Regions from separate parts of the Homo sapiens genome. Here region 1 is linked to region 2. The links come from fine-mapping of genetic effects on gene expression. A gene starts in region 2. The other region holds a variant in brackets. All regions are shown on one strand. Distances are from middle to middle.

Region 1 (12,153 bases), 64 kb after region 2:
AAGAGTGGAGTTTGTTCAAACCCAGTGGTCTGTGCTCTCAATCTCTGCACTATATTGCCTACTGAGAATGGAGCATACTCCAAGAGACAGTAAATGAGAAAAGCAAGGTGCATACAGTAGCTTGCTAGGTCCATGTAGCATGCTACCATTAACCTCTAAATACAAAATTAAATAAAATTTTAAAACACATGTATATGTACAATCTTATATGGGTAAAGAGTATCTCTGGAAATATTTATAACTAACTGGTTGTCCCCTGGGAGAGAAATCGGGAAAATAGAAGACAGAACTGGAAGGGAGAGGAGAATGATTTTTCCCTCTAATCCCTTTTGTATCTTTTGAATTTTATATCATGTATTAAAATAATAATTCTGTATCATGCATTATTTTAAACTCCAAAAATAATACTGCACTGAGCATCAGTGAACATAATCTTTTTTTTTTTTTTTTTTCTTGAGACAGAGTGTCTTGCTCTGTTACCCAGGCTGGAGTGTAGTGGAGCGGTCTTGACTCACCACAACCTCCACCTCCCAGGTTCAAGCGATTCTCCTGCCTCAGTCTCCTGAGTAGCTGGGATTACACGTGCCCACCACCATGCCTGGCTAATTTTTGTATTTTTAGTAGAGACAGGGTTTCACCATGTTGGCCAGGCTGGTCTCGAACTCCTGACCTCAACTAATCCACATGCCTCGGCCTCCCAAGATGCTGGGATTACAGGCGTGAGCCACTGCGCCCAGCCAGTGCACATAATCTTTATGTCCATGTCAGATTATCCCCTTAGAAGAAATTTCTAGACATGTAATGGCTGGGACCAAAGTCTGAAAAAATGTCAAGCCTCTTGATACCTATGGACAATCTGCCACCTAGGAAGGCAGTGCTAGTGTACACTCCCACCCATGGGGTGTTCCACTAAAGCTGTGCCAATAGAAGCACTGATGCCAAGACAGAGACTTAATGGCCTTTGCCAGTCTGAAAGGTAAAAACAGCAACTCCGTGTTGTTTTAATTTGCATTTCTTTGACTGCCATCCCAGTTCTACATCTCTTTTGTGCATTTTGGTCATTTCTATTTCTTCTTTTGAGAACTCTGCTTATATACTTTTTTTGCCCATTTTTCTATTTTTTCTTTGATTTATAAGAGTTCCTTTGTCATATATCAGCAACATAATCCCTTGACTGTTCTGTATGTTGGAACTGTTGTCTCAGTTTGTTTTAGGCCTTTTACTTTTGTTTATAGTTGTTACGGATCTGCAGAAGTTTTAAGCTTTTAGGAAGTCACATCTAAAAATCTTTTTTAAAAATGGTTCCTTCTCATTCTAATACGATATACTATTCACTTATATTCTCTTCTAGTAAATATCTTTTAAAGTAAACATTTAACTGTTTGGGGTTTGTCCTGGTATACAGTAGGATGTATGAATCTGCCCTTTTCCTCCAAAAGATTAATCAAATATCCAAATATTTACTGAACAATTTATCCTCATACAGTGATTTGGTTATCCTGTTCAAATCTATCCTGTTCTCTTCCATTCCATTCTCCTGCTTGTGCCAGTAAAACACAGCTTTGCTACTGTAGATTTATTGTTTTATGTTTAATAGTACTAGTCTCCCTTTTACTTTTTTTTCCAAAAATTTCTTGGCTAGTCTAACACTTTACACTTACAAATGAATGTTAGAGTCACTTTATCAAGCCCTAAAACATACCATTGGAACTTAGTTCTATCAACTTGTGGAACACACATTTACTAATTCTAGTTTAATTCTTTTTTAAAGCAGTTAAATAAAAGTTAAAATGAAAAAGTAAAAAAAAAAATTGTTATAGCTTAGACCTAAAAACTGTTCCAAGATTAAGATTGGCCCTGTTTATCAGCTGAAAATTGATTATTATTACTACAAAATGTTTCATGTAAGCACTATAGTAACCACAAAGAAAATACCTATAGGAGATAAAAGAAAATGAGAAAGGAATCAAAGCATGTCACTACAAAAAATTAATGAACCACAAAGGAAGGCAGAAAGAGAGGAAAGAAGAACAAAAGAACTGTAAGATAAATAGAAAACAGTTAACAAAATGGCAATAGTAAGTCCTTTCCTATCATAATTAAGCACAAATGGATTAAACTCCCCAATCAAAAGACACAGAGAAGACACAGAGGGGGCTGGGTGTGATGGCTCACATCTATAATCCCAGTGCTTTGGGAGGCTGAGGCTGAGGCAAGAGGCTCACTTGAGGCCAGGAGTTTGAGATCAGCCTGGGAAACACAGTGAGACCCCATCTTTTAAAAAAACTAAAAAAGTTGGCTAGTTGAAGTGGAGTGCACCTGTAGTCCCAGCTATCTGAAAGGCTGAGGTGGGAGGATTGCTTGAGCCCAGGAGTTCAAGGCTGCAATAAGCTGTGAGTGCACCACTGCACTCCAGCCTGAATGACACAGTGAAACCTTGTCTCGAAGGAAAAAAAAAAAAAAAGACAAAGAGGAGCTGAATAGAGGGGGAGAAAAGCAAGACCCAATTATACACTGACTAAAAGAGACTCACTTTAGATTTAAAGACACACATAGGCTGAAAGTGAAAGGATGGAAAAAGATATTCCATGTAAACGGAAAAAAAAGAGAGCAAAAGTAGCCATACTTATATCAGACCAAAAAGACTTTAAGTCAAAAAGCTGTCACAAGAGACAAACAAAGATATTACATAATGATAAAAAGGAGTTATATGTTCACCAGGAAGATATAACATCAGAGCACCCAAATACATGAAGCAAGCACCGATAGAAATGAAGAGAGAAATAGACAGCAACACAATAATAGTAGATTTCAACAATGGTCAACAAGGAAACAGAAGACCTGAATAACACTATAGACCAAATGGACCTAAGAGACACAGAATATTCCATCCAACAGCAGTAGAATATGCATTCTTCTCAAATATGCAAAATACTCTCCAGGATAGATCACATGTTAAGTCACAATACAAGTCTTTAAGAATTTAGGAAGAGACTAATTATCTAAGTGTGGTGGCTCATGCCTGTAATCCCAACTTTTTGGGAGGCTGAAGTGAGAGGATTGCTTGAGGCCCAGAGTTCGAGACCAAGCCTGGGAAACACAGCAAGACCTCATCTCAATAATAATAGTAGTAGTAGTAGTAATAATAATCATAATAATAAAGAAAAAGGAAAAGAAAAAATTAGCTGGGCATGGTGGTGTGCTCCTGTAGTCCCAGCTAGTTGGGAGGCTGGAGGCATGAGGACTGCCTGAGCCTGGGAGGCTGAGGGTGCTGTGAACTATGATTACACTGCTGCACTCCAGCCTGGGTGACAGAGTGAAACCCTGTATCTAAAAATAAATTTAAAATAAAAATTAAAATTTTAAAAGACTGAAATCATACCAAGTATCTTTTCTGACCATGAAATGAAACTAGAAATCTACAGAAGGAAAACTGGAAAATTCACAAATACATGGAAGGTAAACACCATACCCTTCTTCTTTTTTTTTTTTTCTTTTTTTTTGAGACGGAGTCTCACTCTGTCACCCAGGCTGGAGTGCAGTGGTGCGATCTCAGCTCACTGCAACCTCCACCTTCCCGGTTCAAGCTATTCTCCTGCCTCAGCCTCCTGAATAGCTGGGATTACAGGACGCACCACCATGCCCAGCTAATTTTTGTATTTTTAGTTGAGACAGGGTTTCATCATGTTGGTCAGGCTAGTCTTGAACTCCTGACCTCAAGTGATCCACCTGCATCAGCCTCCCAAAGTGCTGGGATTACAGGCGTGAGCCACCATGCCACTCTTGCCATTTCTACTGTACACATTATGGGAAATTCTAGTCAGGGCAATTAGACAGGAAAAAGATATAAAAGGCATACAAATCAGAAAGGAAGAAGTAAAAATATCACAGCGACATGATCTTATATGTAGAAACCCTAAAGAGTCCACAGAAAAGCTGTTAGAACTAATCAATGAATTCAGCCAAGTTGCAAGACAAAAATCAACATGCAAAAGACAGATCTGCTTCTATACACTGACGATGAATAAACCAAAAAGGAAATTAAGAAAACAATCTCATTTACAATAGCATTAAAAAGAATAAAATACTTAGGAATAAACTTAACTAAGGGGGTGAAAAATGTGTACACTGAAAACTACGAAACATTGCTGGAAGAAACTAAAGAAGATCTAATAAATGGAAAGACATCTGTGTTCATGGAGTGGAAGACCTAATATTGTAAAAATGTCTGTATTACCCAAAGCAATCTACAGATTCAATGCAATCCCTATCAAAATCCAAACGGCTTTTGTTTTTGTTGCAGAAACAGGAAAAACAATCCTAAAATTCATATGGAGCCACAAAAGACCCTTAATAGCCAAAACAATCATGATAAAGAACAACAAAGCTGGAGGCCTCACACTTCCTGACTTCAAAACAAATTACAAAGCTATGGTAATTAAAATAGTATGGTACTGGCATAAAGACAGACACATAGACCAATGGAACAGAATAGAGAGTGCAGAAATAAACCTATGCATGTACGGTCAAATGATCTTTGACAAGGATGCCAAGACTGCACAATGGGGAAAGGATAGTCTTTTCAAGACATGGTGCTGGCAAAATGATATCCACATGCAAAAGAATGAAGTTGGACCTTTATTTTATGCCCTACACAAAAGTCAACTCAAAATGGATTAAAGACTTCAGCATAAGACCTGAAACTATAAAAAGCCCAGAAGAAAACACAGGGGAAAAACTTCATAACATTGGTCTTAGCAATGATTTCTTGGATATGACACTAAAACCACAGGTAATGAAGGCAAAAATAGACAAGTGGCACTACATCAAACTAAATAGCTTCTATGCAGCAAAAGAAACAGCACAGTGAAAAGGCAACCTAAAGCATGGGAGAAAGTATATGCAAACAATATATCCAATAAAAGAGTATCCAAAAAAATATAAAGAACCCTTACAATGCAGAACGACAACAAAAACCAAACCACAACCCAAATAACCTGATTAAAAAACGGTCATTTGCAACCACTGAAGTACAGAAAAAATAAAACATGGGCAAAGGACTGGCATAGATATTTCTCTAAAGACATACAAGTGGTCAACAGGTATATAAGAAGGTGCACGACATCACTGACCATCAGGGAAATGCAATTCAAAACCACAATGGGATATCACTTCACACCTATTAGGCTGGCCACCATCAAAAACAGAAAAAGAAAAATAAGTTTTGCCTAGGATGTGGAGGAACTGAAATGCTTGTGCATTGTTAGTGAAAATGTAAAATGGTATAGCTGCTGTGGAAAACAGTATGGAGTTTCTGCAAAAAGTTAAAAGTAGAACTACCATGTAATCCAGCAATTCCACTTCTAGGTATTTATGCAAAATAACTGAAAACAGAATCCTGAAGAGCTATTTGTACTCCATGTTCACTGCAGCACTATTTACAATAAACAACTGAAACGTCCATTAACGGATGAATGGATAAAGAAAAAGTGGTCCATGCATACAATGGAATATTATTCAGCCTCAAAAAGGAAATAAATTTTGACACGTGCCACAGCATAGATGGAGGAATATTATTCAGCCTTAAAAAGGAAGGAAATTGTGACATGTGCCACAGCATAGATAAAGGATATTATACAAAGAGAAATAAGCCAGTCACAGAACAAATACTGTATGATTCCACTTACATGAGGTATTTAATGCAGGCAAACTCACAGAAGCATAAAGTAGAATGGTGGCTGCCAAGGGCTGGGAGGAGGGGGAAATGAGGAGTTACTGTTCAATGAGTCTAGAGTTTCAGTCAATGAAATAAAAAAATTCTAGAGATTTGCTGTACAACAATGTACAATATAGATAAGACTGTACTGTTCACTTAAAAACTTAAGAGGGTAGATTTCATTTTTTATATATATATATATATATATACACATACACACACACACACACACACACACACACACACACACACACACATATATTTTTCTTTTAACCACAATTAAACAAAAAAAGACTGGCCTTGGGAGAAGCCACAATTACTGCTGACGGAATGCCTGCTGTACTCATGCCAGTGGCTCACATGCCAACCTTATGCAATCTTCATCACACATGGTACCCTGAAGATCCCTTATCCAAAATGCTTGGGACCAGAAGTGTTTTGGTGTTCAAATTTTTTCGGATTTTGGAATATTTGCACATACATAATGAGTTATCTGGGGGATAGGACCCAAATCTAAACATAAAATTCATTTATATTTCATATATACCTTAAACACATAGCCTGAAGGTAATTTTACACAATATGTTTAATGATTTTGTGCATGAAACAAAGTTTTGACTTTGACCCACCATCTTTGAGCACCTTTTCATATACCTGTTGGTCACCTGTATGTCTTTGGAGAAATATCTATTCAAGCCCTTTGCCCATTTTTAATTTTTATTTTTTCTATTCTTCAATGGTTACAAATGCCCATCATGAGGTCAGGTGTGGAATTTTCCACTTGTGGCTTCATATCAGCATTCAAAAAGATTTGGATTTTAGAGTAATTGGACTTTGGATTAGGGATACTCAGCCTGTACCATTACCCCCATTTTACTGGCCAAGATGTGACCAAGAAGTGAAGTACCCAGACTTCGCCCAATGATGCACTAAGTAGTAGAACTGGAATTTGAACTCAGGTTTGTTGGACTGCAAAGCTTATAGTTTTCTGCCTTCTGTCATTATGATCATCGTCCTGTGGGATATCTTTCCCACCCGCTCTGGACTGTGAGTGACCCAAGTGGAGGAGCTTGTTCACTCCTGGCTCACTATCACTATTGCCTAACACTGAACACTGCAAGCCTCCTCCAGATAATAAATGCATTTGCTTCTTATACTTATCTATGGACAAAAGCCACAATTCAGTGATACAATTCCTCTAAAATCTGCCATAATTGTATCAAACTTCTTCCCATGATGTTTAATTAGAATGATTTGTTAAAGTAGTAAGCCAGTTCATCCAGAATATTCCACATTAGTTTTGCAATGAAAATGTAACCATATCTACAGTCTGCTCTCAAACCACTGACACCAAAAACTGGTTCACAACTGAATAAAGGAATAATCACCTCCAAGAATGCCTCAAGAGTCCTCAATAATCCTTTTCAAAGGACTGACATCACCTAGGCCAAAAAGAAAAATAATTCCTTAATAAGTAATTTATTTGCTAGCACTGACCCATGGCCCATGGTTGGGGCAGGAATGAAAAAAATAACGGTGTTTCTCATGTGGGCTGGAAACCTACGATCTTACCATCTACCTTAGCTGTTGCCCTCAGTTCCCTGGCATGGCTTTGATGAAGATCTCTGACTAGCTCCTGCTGCTCTGCTCACTTGGGCTCTGCTAGTATTTGCCCCACTTAATTGTGTGGTACCTTTTAATTTCCCTTTGTCAGCTGGCCTGCCATC[T/C]CCTCTGTGACTTTCCCATGGCCTCACAGACCTCTCCCCAGCTACCACAGATCACCCCATGTAGCAGGAATGCCAGCCCCTAAAGGGTAGTGAATTCATCCAACACTTGCTTATTTGGCATTTACTATATGTCAGCTACTGTGGAATAGATAAGTGAACAAAACTTAAAAAATTCCTGCCCTTATTGAGCTTAGATTCCAGCGGGAAGAGAGACACAATAAATAAACATGTAAAATATAGAGTACGTCACACAGTGTTAAGTATTGTGGATCAAAGCAAAGCAGGGAAGAGGTTAAAGAGTGGTGTGTGTGTGTGTGTGTGTGTGTCTGTGTGTACTGGAGAACTGTCACCCGTGCGAGAAAAGTGCTTCACAACTAGTGCATCTCTTCCATTCCTCCTTTTCCCATTCTCTGTCACACACCCTCCACTGGCTTCCACATGTACCCCAACAAGCATCCCTTCTGCTTATCTGCTCTGTTCCCAGGTTTGGGTATATACTTTGTGAGCCCCTTTGTTCAAAATGCAGGGCCTTTGTTCAAAAAGTAAGAAGGTCAGGATGGTAACAGCAGAGTATTAAAACAAGTTTGAGGCCTCTGCAGGGCATACGTTGCAAGCCCAGGAAGACAGCCCTGCTTGTTCCTATTCTACCCAAGATGATAGGTGAAGGCAAGGCCCTGTGAATGCAGGCCCCACAGCCTCCAACAAGCCCCAGCGGGAGGAGAAGGGTAGCTGCTGCCACTGCTACATTCTACAGAAAGCTCAATGAGTCCGGGTAGAGGAGAAAGACAAGCCCAGGAACCAATGCTTGGAGGGTATGCCTTTTACAGGAAAAGAACAGCTTCTAGAAGGGGGAAACCTGATGCCAAAAGGGAGGGCTACACAGAAATGTCTCCTGAGTACCTCCTTTGCACTAGACATTGAGGGAAAGAGACAGTGATGGATGGTGCAGGCAAATATTCAGAGGGGTCAAACAAGGCTTCCCTGGGCAGGGCAGACTTCTGTTGTGGGGAGAGAGGATGGGGGCAACTACAACTGAGCAAGGAAGGATGGACAGAGGGGACAGGGAAGGATGTTTATGAGGGAGAAATGGAAAGTTACAGGAGGCAATAAGGAGGACAGTTTGGCTGGTGGCAGAGGATGTATCACTAGGTGAGACCAGAGTGGGGAAGGGCCTCTAGCCTGAAAGCAGTTGAGGGAGGGGGTGGTCAGTGAATGCTTTGAGGAGAAACAGGGACAGGATGAGAGCTGTGCTCTTGGAAGACCTGTCTGGTGGTGTATGAAGGACAGACAGCAGGCTCAGAGCAGCATCTAAGGAGAGGTCATGCTGGTGAGGGCAGGACAGCGAGAGCCTACCAAAATTAGCTGGGTAGAGCTTTCCTACCATCGGCACTGGGTCTGCACAGATGAGCAGACGTGAGGGAAGGTTTAGATGCACATTTCCAAGCAAGCAACAACACATAAGAAACTACATATCCCTGAGACAAAGTTCTCCGGCAGGATGCCCCAAACCACGTGCATTCCACAGAATCCCTAATTTTAGAAACCAGACTGGAACTTATCTTACCAAAATAAACGTGGCCCCAAATATTTACTTTTGTTATTTTCTCGTTGTGGAGGAAGGAAGATCAATATGGACCTCAGGACATTTTACATGTTCCTCACAAAGATAATTTCTTAGGGTGCCCTCTTGTACACCATTGTTGGAAAAGCTGGCAATTATAAAACAAGGAAGTCTCCCAGTAAAAGTAAAAGCTTTTGGCATTTTTATCACACATCATTGTTTTTCAGTTTCTCAAATATCAACTCTGGACTTCATAACCCTTCGATTTCCTTGTACACGTGGATAAAAAAAAAGTCTTCCAATTGTGGGACAGTAACCATAATGAAGAGAAAAGCAAATGGCAGCCCTAGAAAAATTTATTTTCATCATATAAACAGGACACACAATACTCTTCTCTCTTTAGGCCGAATAATGTTAACAGCCTTAGTTTGAATCATCATAAACGGAATTCTTATCTCAAGAGTTTTAGGACGAAGAAACTCTCACCTTGGACCGGGTTGAATGCCATACGGCAAGAGGCCTGTTGTCCTCACTCCCAGTTTTCAAACATAGAAACTCTTCTCTGTTTCGTTTTGTTTTAATGAGAAGAGTAAAATAGAAGAGTTTCTGCTTGCAACATTCTGCTTCAAACAGGCATCAGCTCTCATGCATACTCACAGATGTTTTGGGATTAATTGTGAAGATGTCATCCAATTGTATGTTTGTGTTGTTCCCTTCCTGCTATCATGGCTCTGATAGCCTAAATGAGTGATTTAATACTGTGTGAATTTTGCATTGGTTTATAAGTGTGTTGTTTCATTAAAAAAAAAAAACAGAGAAAAGCAAGGAATACTTAGAAAGCTTCTTTGTATCAACTGACAGTTAATCATTCAGATGGAAATATGCACGTTAAAATGTCATTGCTGACAGCCTATAGTTTTTAGCTGTACAATTTGAATTCCCACAACAGTATACGGCTTTATAAGATATGTTTAAGAAATGCTCTAAAGTTATTTGTTCCTTAACCTGGAATTTTATAGGGTATATAATAACTTTATAAATGGAAAAATATTAACAAATGACCCTAAGAAACCTCTCTTGATAAAATTGCATAAACCACATATTTCAAAATAGACACCACACGCTGGGGACTGAACATGGAATAAGAAGTACCATGTGATTCTTCCTACACAGAGTTCCACTCTGCCAAGATCAGATATTTTAAGAACGCATTTGAACTATCAGTTGGGATGGCAGTTCTGTGGAAGTCTTCACAGCATTTTCAGGGTTTCCCAAAAGAAGAGCTCAAGGCTCCTCTCTCCAGCTGACTACTTCAATGTCACTCCAAGAACACCAGAAATGTGGATACCACCCTCAGCTTTTCCTCCTGCATCTCCTACAGCCAGCCAGCTGCCAGGCCCAGGCTCTTCTCCCCATATGCTCAGCAGTCATCCTGTCCCACGCCACTGTCCCTCCCTCCACAGAACCTTTGCAACAGTCTGATTACAGGTTTCTCCTCCCCTAGAACGATCTTTTCTGAAATGCAGATGTGGTTAGGCCCCCTTCCTGCTTACAGCCCCTCGGTAGCTCTACATGGCTCAGACTGGGTTCTTGTCATGTTACACAAGATAAGGTAACACAGGGTAGTGAAGGAAGCTTGGTGAACTCACCCCTTACTGTCCCCAGTGGAAACACTGCCCTGCTTGTCAAACATCCACAGGCCAGAATGCCAAGCCTGTGGGCTCTGAGCCTGTGCTGGACTGCAGCCTTGAAGGTAGCCCTCACACAGAAACACACTTAGTGCTTCAGACCAGGAGTGGCAAGGCCCTTGTTGGTGACTCAGCTGTGTTCCCAAGCTTCCCTTGCCAATCCCTTGTTTGGAACCTGGAATGCTATTTCCCACAAATATCATGTAATAAGGAGTGACAAAGTGCCCATGCTAGCCCATAAGGGCTGATTTAATCCATACCTCAACAGAGCCACATTTGCAAGGAAAAAGAATGGTGGTCTGTTTAGTAAAGACTTATCTGGCATCTAATGTAAGGAAGCCTGCTAGCTGCTTTAATAAAAAGACACTCTGAGCTGAGAAGGGAGAATCTCCCCATGGAGTGGAGCAATAGGAGATCCTGGCCCAATTGTTGTCCTGACATCTATCTTCCCATTAGGAATCTTACTGGTCACTCCTGTCCCTCAATTGGGGGCCTCAGCGTACTGCTTCCCAGGTCACACAGGCTCAGTCTTGGGACAGGCCCTGCCTTCATACTCCACAGCACTGCAAGCCTTCTGTTTGAGGACAGCATTCAGGAGTCCAACTCAGAGAGTAACTTATAGGGGCTGCTAGAGGTGGCTGCCCTCAGGCTCCTCTGTGTGGGTACTCTTTTTTTTTTTCCTTGAGACAGAGTCTTGCTCTGTTGCCCAGGCTGGAGTGCAATGGTGTGATCTCGGCTCACTGCAACCTCCACCTCCCAGGTTCAAGTGATTCTCCTGCCTCAGCCTCCTGAGTAGCTGGGATTATAGGCATGCAGCACTACCATGCCTGGCTACTTTTTGTATTTTTAGTAGAGATGGGGTTTCACCATGTTGGCCAGGCTGGTCTCGAACTCCTGACCTCGTGATCTGTCTGCCTCGGCCTCCCAAAGTGCTGGGATGAGAGGCGTGAGCCACCGCGCCTGGCCCTATGTGGGTACTCTTTGGGGGCTGTCCCAGTTATTCCTCCTCCCTGCAAGGAGAAGTCTTCATTCCCCATGACCTGGGAAAAAGTCTTCAAGTGCATCTTATTCTGCAGAGGCAAGGCCCAAGACAACAGGAACCAAGAGAAGAAACAGTTCTCCAGCCTTGCCCCAGGATGACCAGCAGTGGGAACACCACTTCCTTACAGGTGGTCTGGCCCCTTACCACAGGGATGAAGCCTCATAGACCTCAAAGAGTCATAATAGTTCAATATCAGCACAAAAGCTGCATATACTGTTTGTGTTTGTGTGAGTGTGTGTGTGTGTGTGTGTGTGTGTGTGTGTGTGTGGTAGTTAGGGTTGTTTCTTATATCGACCATCTTCCAGGTGCTGAACTAGGTACTGGGAGAAAAAAACAGTTACATAAGGAAAAAGGAACTGTTCCTGTCCTCAGGGAACTCTCAAACTAGGGGGAGGAGACAGATACACCTCCGACGACCT
Region 2 (12,153 bases):
CCTCCATGATCTGCATGAGGTCCGGGGCTTTGGCCTCATCATCCACCACACCAATCTGTGCACGACCACCACCACGTTCCCTGTCCCGGAGGCTGTAGGTCAAAGCCAGCCCCTGCGGGAGAGGACCTGGGAGTCAGGGTGTCACCAGTGTGCCCTCTCACAGCAGAGACTTCTCCTGTCACTGCTCAGCTCCCAGAGGCTGATGGGGAGAAGGGCTGATGTCCCCTCATCCTGGCATCCAGGGGGACACCAACAATGCAGGGTCTGAACTCAGCTTGTAACTCATAGGCGTTTCTTGGGTTGTAGCAGAGCCAAGCCCAACTCTTTGGGTGGCCGGAGGATGGTCAACTGGAGGATCATTCCCCGCCCAAGCCCCGTACTCCCCAGTTCCTTGGGCAGACACTGACCCGAGCCTTCTCAGAAATGCTGGTCTTGGGCCCATTCCACTGAATCATCATCTTGCCTAGGTCCAGCAGGAAGATGTCACCCTTATTAAAGCTGTTCCAGGAGAGCTCCACCTGCCAGAGCCAGGGAGAGAGACAGAGTGTCATACCACCAGCATCCGCTAGAGGGGAGCATAGCTGGGATGTGTCACGTGTGCATGAAGCTGTATGCAAACTGGGTGTACGTAGGCATGTGTGACTGTAGATAATGCTGCATTCCACAGGGTGTACATGACTTATGACACTTCTCACTCAGTGCATGTCTGTTGCTGTACATGTATACATGTACACATGTATACAGGTGGGGTGTATCTGTTTATCTTTTGTGTGTGTGCATATACACATGTATGTATATGGGGACATCACATGTGAAGAAGTGTGCTTATGGTGACAGTGAATACCTATGGATGAAGATAGTCTCCAAACGGACACACTTTTGAGAGTAAAAGGGAGTACTTTAGATAATTATGCCAGGATAATAGGAGAAACATGGGGCTTCATGGTGTCCCTGAATGACCAGAGATGTATGGTCACTGGGTCTGTGGGTGACATGCAGAGCCTATGTGGGATTGTCTCTGTGTCACAGGCTGCCTATGCAGACTCACTTGCATACCTCAAGGGTTACCATTCACACTGTAGACGTTGTACACCTGAATGTTCATTACACCAAATTCTGGCCAGATGGCAGCAAAATGTTTTGTTCTAACAAAACCAGTATTTTCCTGTAATTTCCTGACAGATGGAAGAAAGGGGCACTGTTCTGATTTGCACAAGGGCACTCTATGGACCAGAGGAGCACCCGGGGATAACAGTGGGAGACAGTGTGTGTGCATATAGGTGACAATGACAATGTGTGTGAGAGAGTGCGAGGTTATGCACCACCTCTCACTGTGCTGCTAACAAGGACCATTCACAGGCGCCATATCATCTGCCCCATCTGCCCAAGTTCTTTTTTTGTTTCAGAGACAGGGTCTTTCTCTGTCACCCAAGCTGCTGGAGTACAGTGGTGTCATCATGAATCACTCCTGGGCTCAGGCGATCCTCCTGCCTCAGCCTCCCAAGTAGCTGTGCCCATGTTCTCAATATGTCCCTGAGATAGACGCATAAACAAAAGGTCCGGGGAGCAGTGGCAGAAGTGGGGCTAGAAGCCTGGTGTCCTCTCTGTTCTCCTCATTCAAGACCATCTGGGAATGCTGACAGCTCCTTGTTCCCCACAACCCCAGCCAATTTCCAACCTCCTTATACCTCAGTACACCCAGTCTGAGCCGAGTTCAGAGGTCAAGAGGCTCCCCTGGCAGCCTCACCTCAGTGGCAGACACGTGCTTCCTCCCTTTGATGTGCAGCAGTCGCTGGATGTTGAACAAGTTGGTCTCCACATGCTTGAGGTCAGATGCTAGGCCTCCCTTCCTGTAGCTGAGGTGGGAATAGCAGGAGGGTATATACATTCTGTGTATATAAGAACACAGACTGCCATGTGCATGAATGACTGCAGATGTGAGCACGTGCACGTATGTGCCTGCTTCATACATGCACTGGAGTCTGTGTGAACACATGTATGTATAAGTACATGGGTGCACACATAGGGCATGAGTGTGCATTCATTTCCATGTGTAGTGCACTTCCATGCGTAGTCATGTGGACACATGCATATATGTGTACATGTACATACATTTGGGGGCACACTGTGTATTTGTTTATCCCTGTAAGTCTAGATGGTGAGTGCATGAAGGTGGGCAACAGCATATATGTGTGTAGGTGAACATGGATATTCACACATGTCCATCTATAGGTGGACATACATGAGGGTGGTGTGTGTTTCTGCATCTGCGCATATGTTTGTGTGCATGTGTTCATGTATATGCTATATGCATATATAGGTTCAACTGTATGAAATGGAAATGATCAAATAGCAATTTCCTATATTTCCAAATATATTGCTAGTGTTAATTTAAAACACCTGTGAAGCAATTTACAGCGAAAGATATATTCCTACCAGCACAGTAACATAAAAGCAAACTCAAAACAACATTGGTGTCTGCTCCTAGGTATATACCAAGGGAAATGAAAACATTTGTCCACACAAAAACTTGTATACAAATGTTCATAAAAACAGATTCATAGCAGCCAAAAAGTGGAAACAACTCAAATGTCTATTAAGTGATGAATGGATAAATAAAATGTAGTATATTCATAAAATGCAATATTACTTGGTAATAAAAAGAAGTAATAACACATGCTACAACATGGATAAACCATGAAAACAGTGTGTTAAAACAAAAAGATCCCGTCAGGGAAGACCATTTGTTGAATGATTCTATTTCTATGACATGCCCGGAAGAGGCAAATGTATAGACAAAGCAGATGAGTGGTTGCCTAGGGCAGGGGATGGGGGTGTTGGAGGGAAATGGGGAGTGGTGGCAAAGGGGTATGGGGCTTCTTTTTAGGGTGATGAAAATGTTCTAAAATTGTGGTGATGGTTGCACACAACTGTTAAAAATCACTGACATGTATATGTACTTTAAATGGGTGAATCGTATGGCGTATGAGTTGTATCTCAATAAAGGTGTTACCCAACCCCTCCCGGCTTGCCCCATTCAGGGATGTGGACGATGGCCATCCCAAGACTGCCCCAGCCAAGGCACCGCCTCCACGGCTCCCTCCTGCCCCGGTCGCCCCCGCACTCACATGATTCCCGGGCGGAAGTAGCTGCAGAAGCAGTCGGACTCGTGGCCCTGCGCCTCGCGGTGCAGCACGGTCTGGCCCCCCAGCTCGTCCTGTAGGCGCTGCTGGAAGGCCTCCGCAGCGCCCTGCGCTTCCGCACCCGCCTGCTTCCCGACCCAGTAGTGCAGGTCGCTGGACGCCCCCTGCGTGGCCTTCGGGCTCTGGGGGACCTAGGGTCCGGGTGTTTGTGTATATGTGTTGCGGGGAAGACGGAGGTGCGGGTGGAGAAGGGGAGGATGTACCAAGGGCCATGGGGAGACGCTAGGCAGGGGCTTCCGCGGAGATCAGGAAGTGGGAGGGAAGGACTAAGAAGCCTCAACGGTAACCGCCCCCTTGTGGGATGTGATTCTCCGGCTCTCAACTTGCCGCTTCCCAGGGCAGAGTTTATGCCTGTGCCTCAGTCTCCCCAGTGCCGGGCCATGCCACCCCTCTCAGGCAGACTTCCCCAAGCGACTCACGTGGAGGATGACATAGCAGTGTTCCTCAAAAAAGTTCCCGTAAGCCCCCTCGGGTACCGGCACCATCTTCCGGTTCTGGGAGAGGAGAGTTCCCTGTAACAACTCAGGAGGCCTCTACCCATGACACCCGCTGGGGTGGGGTGGAAGAGGACGCTCTGAGTTGGGGGCGGGAGAAGCCTAGTGTGGAAAACCCCACGCTCTTCCATGTCACCAACTCTCCTATTTGGTCGTGCCTCTCACCTCAGAGATCCATATGTGGAGGCCTCCCTGCATGCCTGGGAGGCCCTTGCTGATGTCCATCGCAGGCCAGGCAGGAATATGGGACGACACAAGGAACAACAGCCAGAGTTCTCAGGCTGGAGACCGACACCTGGCTACCTGTACAACTTCATTATAGAACATGACTTTTATTAGGAGGGCTCTGTAAACACACAAATGTCAGCACACAGACTATGAAGACTCAGATTCTGCAGCAAGTGACAGGCTCAGCTGATATGAGTGGGTTGGGCAGATTAGGCATAAACACTTGACAATTTTTTTTTCCAGTTTTTTCGAGACAGGGTCTTGCTCTGCCACCCTAGCCTGCAGTGCATGATTCGAACACACTTCACTGCAACCTCCACCTTCTGGGTTCAAGTGATCTTCCCGCTTCAGCTGACAAATTCTTGAAACAGAGCTGAACTCTGTATAAACACAGGCTCTGCAAACAGCCACAGGCTCTGCAAATAGCGATTTAGCTTGCTCGAGTCTGTGCTCTGTGGTTCTGCGCGTGCAGAGAGGGAGAGAATGAGAGGGCAGTGAATGACAGTGACATGGAATGAGAAGTACCTGGGGGAAGGAAGGGACCCTCACTTCTGTCGATTTTGTTATGTCTTGGCACTTCATATTCAATTACCTGAGGCTTCCCTGCACCACTCCTTCAGAAACCTGTGTGTGAGGTTTGGTCCAAAAGTCACTTCTTTCTGAATCTCTCACTCAGGGTGACCCTGGTGTGTTAGTCCTTCCCTCCTCCCCCTCCACTCCCACTGTGTCTTATCAATAGCAGGAACACCCTTGGCTCCAGGCAGAACAAGGTGAGGGGACAGAGTTACAGAATCAGGTGTGGCACAATAGGTGTCATAGAGTGGCTCACATTCCTTACACCTTTGTCAGGGCCCCTGGTTTGGCCCTGGTGAGTTCACAGTACACTGTGGCAACACCCAACATGTAGCCAAAGAAATGTGGGAGCGGAGGAGGCTGTGGGGCAGGGGAGCAGGGGCAGAGTGGGCTGTCCTTCTAGGGGGTTAGAGCTGGGTCCGTCACAGCTCACAGCTCCTCCCGACACCCTATGGAAACCATAGGATGGTTGTTGGCTATGGTCTCCCTCACCAGAGCAGCAGATTCCTGAAGGCAGGGGTTTGTCTTGTTGTTTACTGTGGGATCCCAGCTGCCCGGCCCCCAGCAGGTACTCAGTAAGTACTTGTTGAATGAGTGAAGTGTGCTGCCCTGCGACTGGACTGAGTGAAAATGAATAGAGAAGGGAGCCGTCCGTGCACCCTAATTGCCCCAAGAACTGTTGCCACAGTTGATGGCCTGTTGGTGTGACAATGACATGAGTGACAGGCAGACATAGTGGCCATGAAAAGGTGATCTCAAGCAACAGAAAACGTGAGGACATTGGGTGACAAGCAGGATGTCCACCAGTGGTGGCCCCGTAGAAGGACACTGAGTAATAGGCAGAAATAGTGACCAGTGACAGTTACCAGAGGCCCAGGCAGGCAGTGACCAGAGGTGCAGACAGAAACTGTGAGCTGTAGCTCATGGAAGAGTACAACATGGTGACAGAGTGCCAGAAAGACTACTGGATGGCCTCAGAACAGTGTCAACCAGGGCACATGGGGGACTGGAAAGTCAAACTGGCAGCCAAAAAGTTGGGACTCGGCTGGTGTCACTGGGAGAGGCAGCATCGCCCCCAGGGGTCCGGGAGCCCGTCTGATATCCAGCCCCAGCCCGTAGAGCCAAGCCCTCAGCTGCCAGGGCTGAGGTCGCACTCGCATGGCACCTGTGTTCATTCTCTTTCACCTGGACTCCAGGGAGGAATGGGTGCTCAAAGATTGGGGGCCTCCTCCCTCCCCACAGTGCCACCTCCAGCCTCCCAAGCCCTCCTGCCCTCTTTCCTCAGGGGAACCCCCCACAGTGCCCCCTCCAGCCTCCCAAACCCTCCTGCCCTCTTTCCTCTGGGGAACTCCCTTTCACCACCTTCCCAAGTGGGAACCCTCCTATCCCTGGTCCTCTCCCTTCTCCTAGAAGCCCTCCTTCTCTTCCCTGGGGGTGCACTTCCTCCACTCAGGGCCCCTTTCTCTTCCGGATGCCCAATTCCTTCCCTGGTTTCCCTTTCTCTCCCCATGCCCCACGCCTCCGCTTTTCCAGGGTTTCCCTCTGTCCCCACTGGGTGCCCCTGCCTCCCCCTGGTTCTTCTTTCTCCCCTCTGATTTCCCCTCTCCCCTGGGATCCTTCCCTTTTTCTCCCATTTTTCCTCCCCAGGCACCTCCTCCTTTCCTGGTTCCCTGTCTTCCCCTACACCCCTCCCTCTCTCCCTCCCCACCCTCCTCCCCAGGTCTTTCCTTCTCTTCCCCAGGCTCCCCTCTCTTTCCCGGGGCACTCCCTACCCGCTTCACACACCCCCTCTTCTCTCCCCCTGCCCCTCGTGTCCCTGGGTGCCTCCTCTCTCCTCGCTTTCTCCCTCCTCCAGTGCCTCTTTCTCTCCCTACAGGAGCCCTTCCTTCTTTTGTGGGTACCTTTGAAGGGAGCCCGAGATTACCTTGCTCAGTTTCCATGGAGCAGGGAGTGGTGCCGCCCTCTAGAGTGAGGGGAAAGGAGGATGGGGCCAGGGTTGGGGGCAGGCACACTGAATTTGTGGGCCACGGACTTCCCTGCCCATCTACAAAATCTGCCACTTTCTTCCCCTTGGGCTGCCGGCCACAGCTGCCCTGCCCCATCAGTGTTTTCACCTGCTGGGCTGCTGCCGCCTCCCAATTCTGCCGCGGAGGCTCTGTGGCCCTGAGCCCTGGGACCCTATGCTCTATGCCCTTGACTTGAATAGCCCACTCTGCCCCACTGGTTCCCTGGAAACCCCCGCCCCCCAACTCTCTGCCCAGGCCTACCTGCTGGAAACTGCTCCCGCGCCTTCGCCCTGCCTGTGGGCAGTGCTAGGCCTGGCACGGGGCCAGTCTCTGCCTCCCTACTCCTGGTCCCCACCACTGTAACTCAATCCTAGCTCCTGCCCTGCAGGACACACCCCACCACACAGTGCTCAGCGGGCTAGGCATTCACTTAGTCAGCCAGTCAACAAATATCGAGCAAGCCGTCGGGACCAGCGCCCTCCCCAGGGCTATGGTTAAGTCTCCCAGGTCTCACTGCCTGGGTACCAGTGGCCAGAGAGAGCAGGGGATGGAGGCCTGGACTGGGCTAAGAGGTGGGGTGTGGAAGATACTGGGATTTCCTTCTCTGGAGTACTAGATGGGCCCCTGATCCCTCACCCGGAGTGGTGGGCTCCGCCTGGACCAAGAGGGCCAGGCCACTCCAGCAAACTTTAGGAGGAAGTAGGACCAAGGCTGGGGGCTGTGGGGTCAGGCTCTGTGAGACCCAGCTCACTTCAGGAGGGGAAGGTGGTCAGGGCTCCCTCTAGATATTTCTGCTGTCCCTACCCAAATGTGAGCTCACTGCCTGGCACAGCCCTCCTCAGGGAACCCTGATACCCATCATGGGAGAGGCCAGTCCAGCTCTTGCAGCGAAGACACCTCTCCCTCACCTCAGCTGCCACTCCACTGCCACTCTCTCTCTCTCACTGTGGGGTGGAGGGGCTGCAAACAGAGCCTTCCAGAAACTCCAGGGGCACAACCTCCTCTTGGCGGCTTAGGGCCTCAGTCCCAGCCAAGGCCCAGCCAGCGTGGGCCATCCCATCAAAGCCACGCTGCTAAAGCCTGCCCACTGCCCAAGACCCTCTCCCTGTGTTCAGTCTTCACCCCACAAAGGTCTCTGTTACAGGGGTCTGGGGACTTGGGGACTCGGGGGCAGTCTGTGTCCAGCAAGACCTACAGCTAGTGTGTGACTGTGTTTAACAGACACAATGCAGGGTCCCTGTGTGTGAAGGGATGCCTGTGTCACAGGCATTTGGCTCGTCCCCATGTGTGCCATTGCCTGTCCGACCTCATGTGTGTGCCTGTATCCTGGCATGTCTGTCTGATCCCCACTTGGGACAGGGACCCTGTCTGTGACAGTGGCAGTGTGTCCACTGTACCTGTGCATACCCGTTTCCCTGTCCCTTTTTGTCTCTGTGCCCAGGAAGACTCTGTGTCCTCACTTCTTCCCACCGACTCTTCCCCCATCTCCCCTCAGCCCACCCGCTCTGTTTGTTCTTGAATTCCCTGGCAATGGCTCTTTCCTAAGTCACCAATGCCCGCTGTCAACCAAGCGGCAGTCAGTTCAGTCACCATTGTTCCTTCCCCTCTCACTCCACCTGTCTCCTTCAGGCCTCTAAATGGCAGCAGGAGCAGAGCTTGGGCCTTCACTCCTGTTTGTTTTCCAGTTTCCTTCCCAGTTCCAGTCTGAAGGCTGCAAATAGCATGGAAACGCCAGTGTCTCCCTGACCCAACTCCCCCGAACCTTGCCCCGGCCTAAGTCTCCATCTTCCGTCTGTCACATCTCTCCCAGCACGTTTGGTCTCACATTTAACATCGCCTCAGGCCCCTCCCAGATCTACCCTCTCTGAGCCCCAGGAACACGTTCAGTGTGAACATCCAGAGGGTGCTTAGGCCCCAAACCTGGAGTTGCCCTGATTTCTCTCTCCCGCAAGCCACTGGCCCGTCGGCAGCTGGTTCATGGTGGATCCTGGGCCTGGCCCTCCCTCTCACGCCTCCTGCCTGCTCCGGAGCCAGCCTCCCTCTGTGTCTCTGGGTCTGCCTGGCCGCTACGACCATCCTACCACAGTAGCCAGAGGGATCTTTTTTCCTAAGATTTAAAAAAATTGTGGTAAAATATAAAAAATCTTTTTTTCACAAGATTTAAAAAATTGTAGTAAAATATACTTAAAATTTACCATTGTATCCCCTTTTTATTTATGTATTTATTTGAGACAGAGTTTTGCTCTTGTTGCCGAGGCTGGAGTGCAATGGCATGATCTTGGCTCACTGCAGCCTCCGCCTCCCGGGTTCAAGTGATTCTCCTGCCTCAGTCCCCTGAGTAGCTGGGATTACAGGCATGCACCACCACACCCGGCTAATTTTGTATTTTTGGTAGAGACGGGGTTTCACTATGTTGGTCAGGCTGGTTGCGAACTCCTGACCTCCAGCGATCCACCGGCCTCAGCCTCCCAAAGTGTTGGGATTACAGGCGTAAGCCACCACGCCCGGCCTGTATCCACTTTTAAGTATACGGTTCTGTGGTGTTAAGGACACTCATATTGTTGTGCAACCACTGCCACCATTTCCAGAACTCTTTCATCTTACAAAACGGAAACTCTGCAACTCTGCACCCATTAAACATAGACTCCCCATTGCCCCCAGCCCCTTGCAACCACCATTCTATTTTCTATGATTTTGACTAACTAGAGGGAAAATTCAACCTCAGAATTTAACCATAAACCCGCTCACATCACCCCCCTCCCCAAACCTTCCAGTGGCTTCCACTAAAACTGGGATGAAACTCTCAATGGCCGTTCCCGGCTGCCTCTCCCATCACTCTCCCCATGGCTTACTGTGTTCTGGCAATATGATTCCTTGTGTCCCTTGAAGACGCCCAGGTCGTTGTCTGCAGACCTTTGCACTGCAGGCTTCTCTGCCTGGAAGCCCCACTCTCTATATTCCCGTAGCTGCTCCTTTACTGCATTTAGGTCCCAGCCAAAATGGCAGCCCCACAGAGGGCCCTTCCCGCCCTCCTTAGCCACAGCAGTCTCCCTCCTCAGACATCACCACTTTCCTCATCGTGGTGCTCCAAGAAGCTGGTCTCTTTGCTAAGTGGGATCTTTGGTTAGTGTCTGTGTCCCAGCTGGACTGTGAGTCACTGTGGGCAGGGCCTTGCTGTTGTCCACCTGTGTCTAGAACGGTGCCTGGCGCACTGCAGTTGCTTAATAAAACGTTTGCTGACATGTTTCTGTGGCCTGCGCCTGACCCAGTGTGTGTGTGTGTGTGTGTATCTGGACCCTTTACTGGGCTCAGTCCTCCTTCTCTGAGAAGCTGAGGGGGTGACCCCTTTCCACTTTGGTTGTGGGCCAGATACCCCAGCTGGCACAATCCAGTGTCAGCAGCTTAGTGGGGGGCATGAGAACTTCTCCAAGGCCCCAACCCTCGGAATTGTCTGGGTCTCTGCAAACCAGAAGATGTCACCTGGAGAGAACTGCCCTGTCCAGAACCACCTACTCTGTAACCTGTGATCCCAGGCCCAGGATAGATGGCAGTCTGGCCTTAGAGCCTGGCCTGGGGCCAAGATGAGCAGCACTGCCTTGAGTCTGGCCTGGACAGCCTCCGGCTCATGGCTGTCACACCCCAGGCACACAGAGGGGAAACTGAGGCCCAGGGCAGGCTCACAGGCAGCTGGGTGCTGCAAGAATGGGAGGGTGGGATGCCTAGCCTTCCCCTCCCTCCTCCCCCTAGCAGGAAAGGGGTCCCACCACCCCATCCCCATCCCCACCTCCACCCCTCTTCAAGGGGGCCTGCCAGGAGTCAAAAGGGCCCTGGGCAGAGTTTGCCTTGCTAGCAAAGCCCTGCCCTCTTCCTGCCCCAGCCTCCCTTCATCTACCACCCCCTCACTCATCAAGTTTCCAGGGCTTGGGGCCTACTTTGTTCCTGCCTGGCTTATCTCCAAGGCCCAGCCCGCTCCATGTCAATATTGACCCAGGTGAAGGAGTGGCCCCAAGATAAGTCCAGGCTCCGCCCCAGTTTCTCTGGGCTCAGGCATCCTATCCCAGGCTTCATCCCCCAGGCCTTCTCCAGTCTTTCCCAGGCAGGTGCAGAATGTTGCCTCTCGTGGTGGAGTCCGGGCTCTGTGAGGAGCGTCCCTCTCTGAGGGCAGACAGGGATGGGGAGTGAGAACTGTTGACTCAGGTCCTGGAGCCCACTCCTGGAGATGCCCTGGCTCCTTGCGCTGGAGGGGAGCAGCCATGGGCCCGCATGTGTCCCCACATCTGGTGGTCCCGCCCTGGGCTGCAGGATGTGGAAGGAGCTGTGGCAATGGTCACTGGAGCTTGCATAGGCTGGAAGTGACTCCTCCCGAGGACACCACGGGAACAGCTGGGTGAGAGGACAGACCAAACACCAACCCTGGGCCCCTGCAAAGAGGTGTCACTGCCTTGCCCACTGTGGTCCTGCCCAGCAGCACGCCCACCCATTAGGACCCAGCTTGGGTCAGGAAAGCCCTGGCCTGTTGGAAGGGTGGTGGTGCAAGGCTGGGGTCCGTGCCTAGTGGGCAGTGTGATCCTTCCAATGTGTAGTGGGGGGCTCCACTCTGCTCCCCACCTGTGTGAAAGCAGGTGCTGTCAGCCAGGCAGGGGTCTCACCAGGCCTCCCTCCTCACCCCTGCCTTGGGAAAGGCTCCCAGTGCCCAGGTGGGCTTTTCTCTGTACTTTTCTGGATTTTCCAACTTTTTAGCAATGAACATGTATATGGCTGATCTTTCAGGTAAAGCAACACGTCATTTTCCCCAAAGCTCTGGCCACAGCTCCTTTGCCACACCTGGGCATCAGGCCTGGAACAGTTTCGGAGGACTTGCCTTTCCTCTGTAGCCAGTCAGAGCAGGGGGTCTCAGCCCTGGCTGCCCTTTCCAGTCATCTTGGCACTTAAAAACATGACGCAGGTCCCCATATGCAGAGATTGGAAATGGTCTGTGGTGGACTTGAGGGATGTATGTTTGAGACCCCTCAGGTAATTCTAGGGTACAGCTTCAGCCAGAGCTGAGAATCACTGCACCAGGAGAGGGAGCTGTAATGGAGGTTTGAGGTGGAAAGCTCTGGGGCCATGTCCTCCTCCCGATGGCCTCTGTTCTCAGAGGTCAGGCTGGTGGCCATGCCAGTTGATGGCTCTGGGCCTTGAACAGTCTGCTGACCCACAGCCAGCCCTGACACAGGAGATTTATCGTGCAAGCATCCAGGTTACTCCACAACTCGGCCACAAGCCCTCAATGCACTCCTTATCCATAAGCTCAACAGAATGTTCGTCAGCTGATGTGCCACTGTTCCCAGGCTGGCTTTTCCCAGCCACTCCTTCCCACCCTCCTGGGCTTCCTGCCCATTCCTTGGTCCTGTAATACACACAGATGATATGTGCTCAAACTAGAAAACACGGAAGGGCATATCTCAGCATGTCCAAGTCCCAAATAAGTGCCCTCTTGATGCCCCGTGTGTCCTTCCCACCTATTTCGGGGACCAGTGGACACTCATGAGGATACCTCAGCCTCAGGCACTGCCACAACTCTCAGCCTTTTATCTGTTTGCCTGTATGCAAAGGTGTGAAGCAGTGGGGTACAGGGTTGATGCCAGAGAAGGTGAGAGAGGGACAGAG

What was found. PIP is the estimated chance that this variant, and not a neighbour inherited with it, causes the effect.
Region 1: its variant is fine-mapped to the expression of VILL in lymphoblastoid cells (GTEx, PIP above 0.99).

The regions. Positions count from the first base shown.
Region 1 is chr3:37,921,457-37,933,609 of GRCh38, reverse strand. The region is part of intron 1 of CTDSPL (CTD small phosphatase like); the gene reads right to left. Among named protein-coding and RNA genes, the nearest start is that of MIR26A1, 42 kb to the left of the region's middle. The variant T/C (reference allele first, on the strand shown) is at 7,444.
Region 2 is chr3:37,985,442-37,997,594 of GRCh38, reverse strand. VILL (villin like) reads right to left here and starts at 6,809. Exons shown (of 20, transcript NM_015873.4): 1 at 6,766-6,809; 2 at 3,863-4,008; 3 at 3,623-3,697; 4 at 3,129-3,334; 5 at 1,748-1,856; 6 at 408-518; 7 at 1-112. The coding sequence starts at 3,922. RefSeq lists enhancers at 2,694-3,311, 3,343-3,637, 4,503-4,797 and silencers at 3,347-3,796, 10,432-10,609.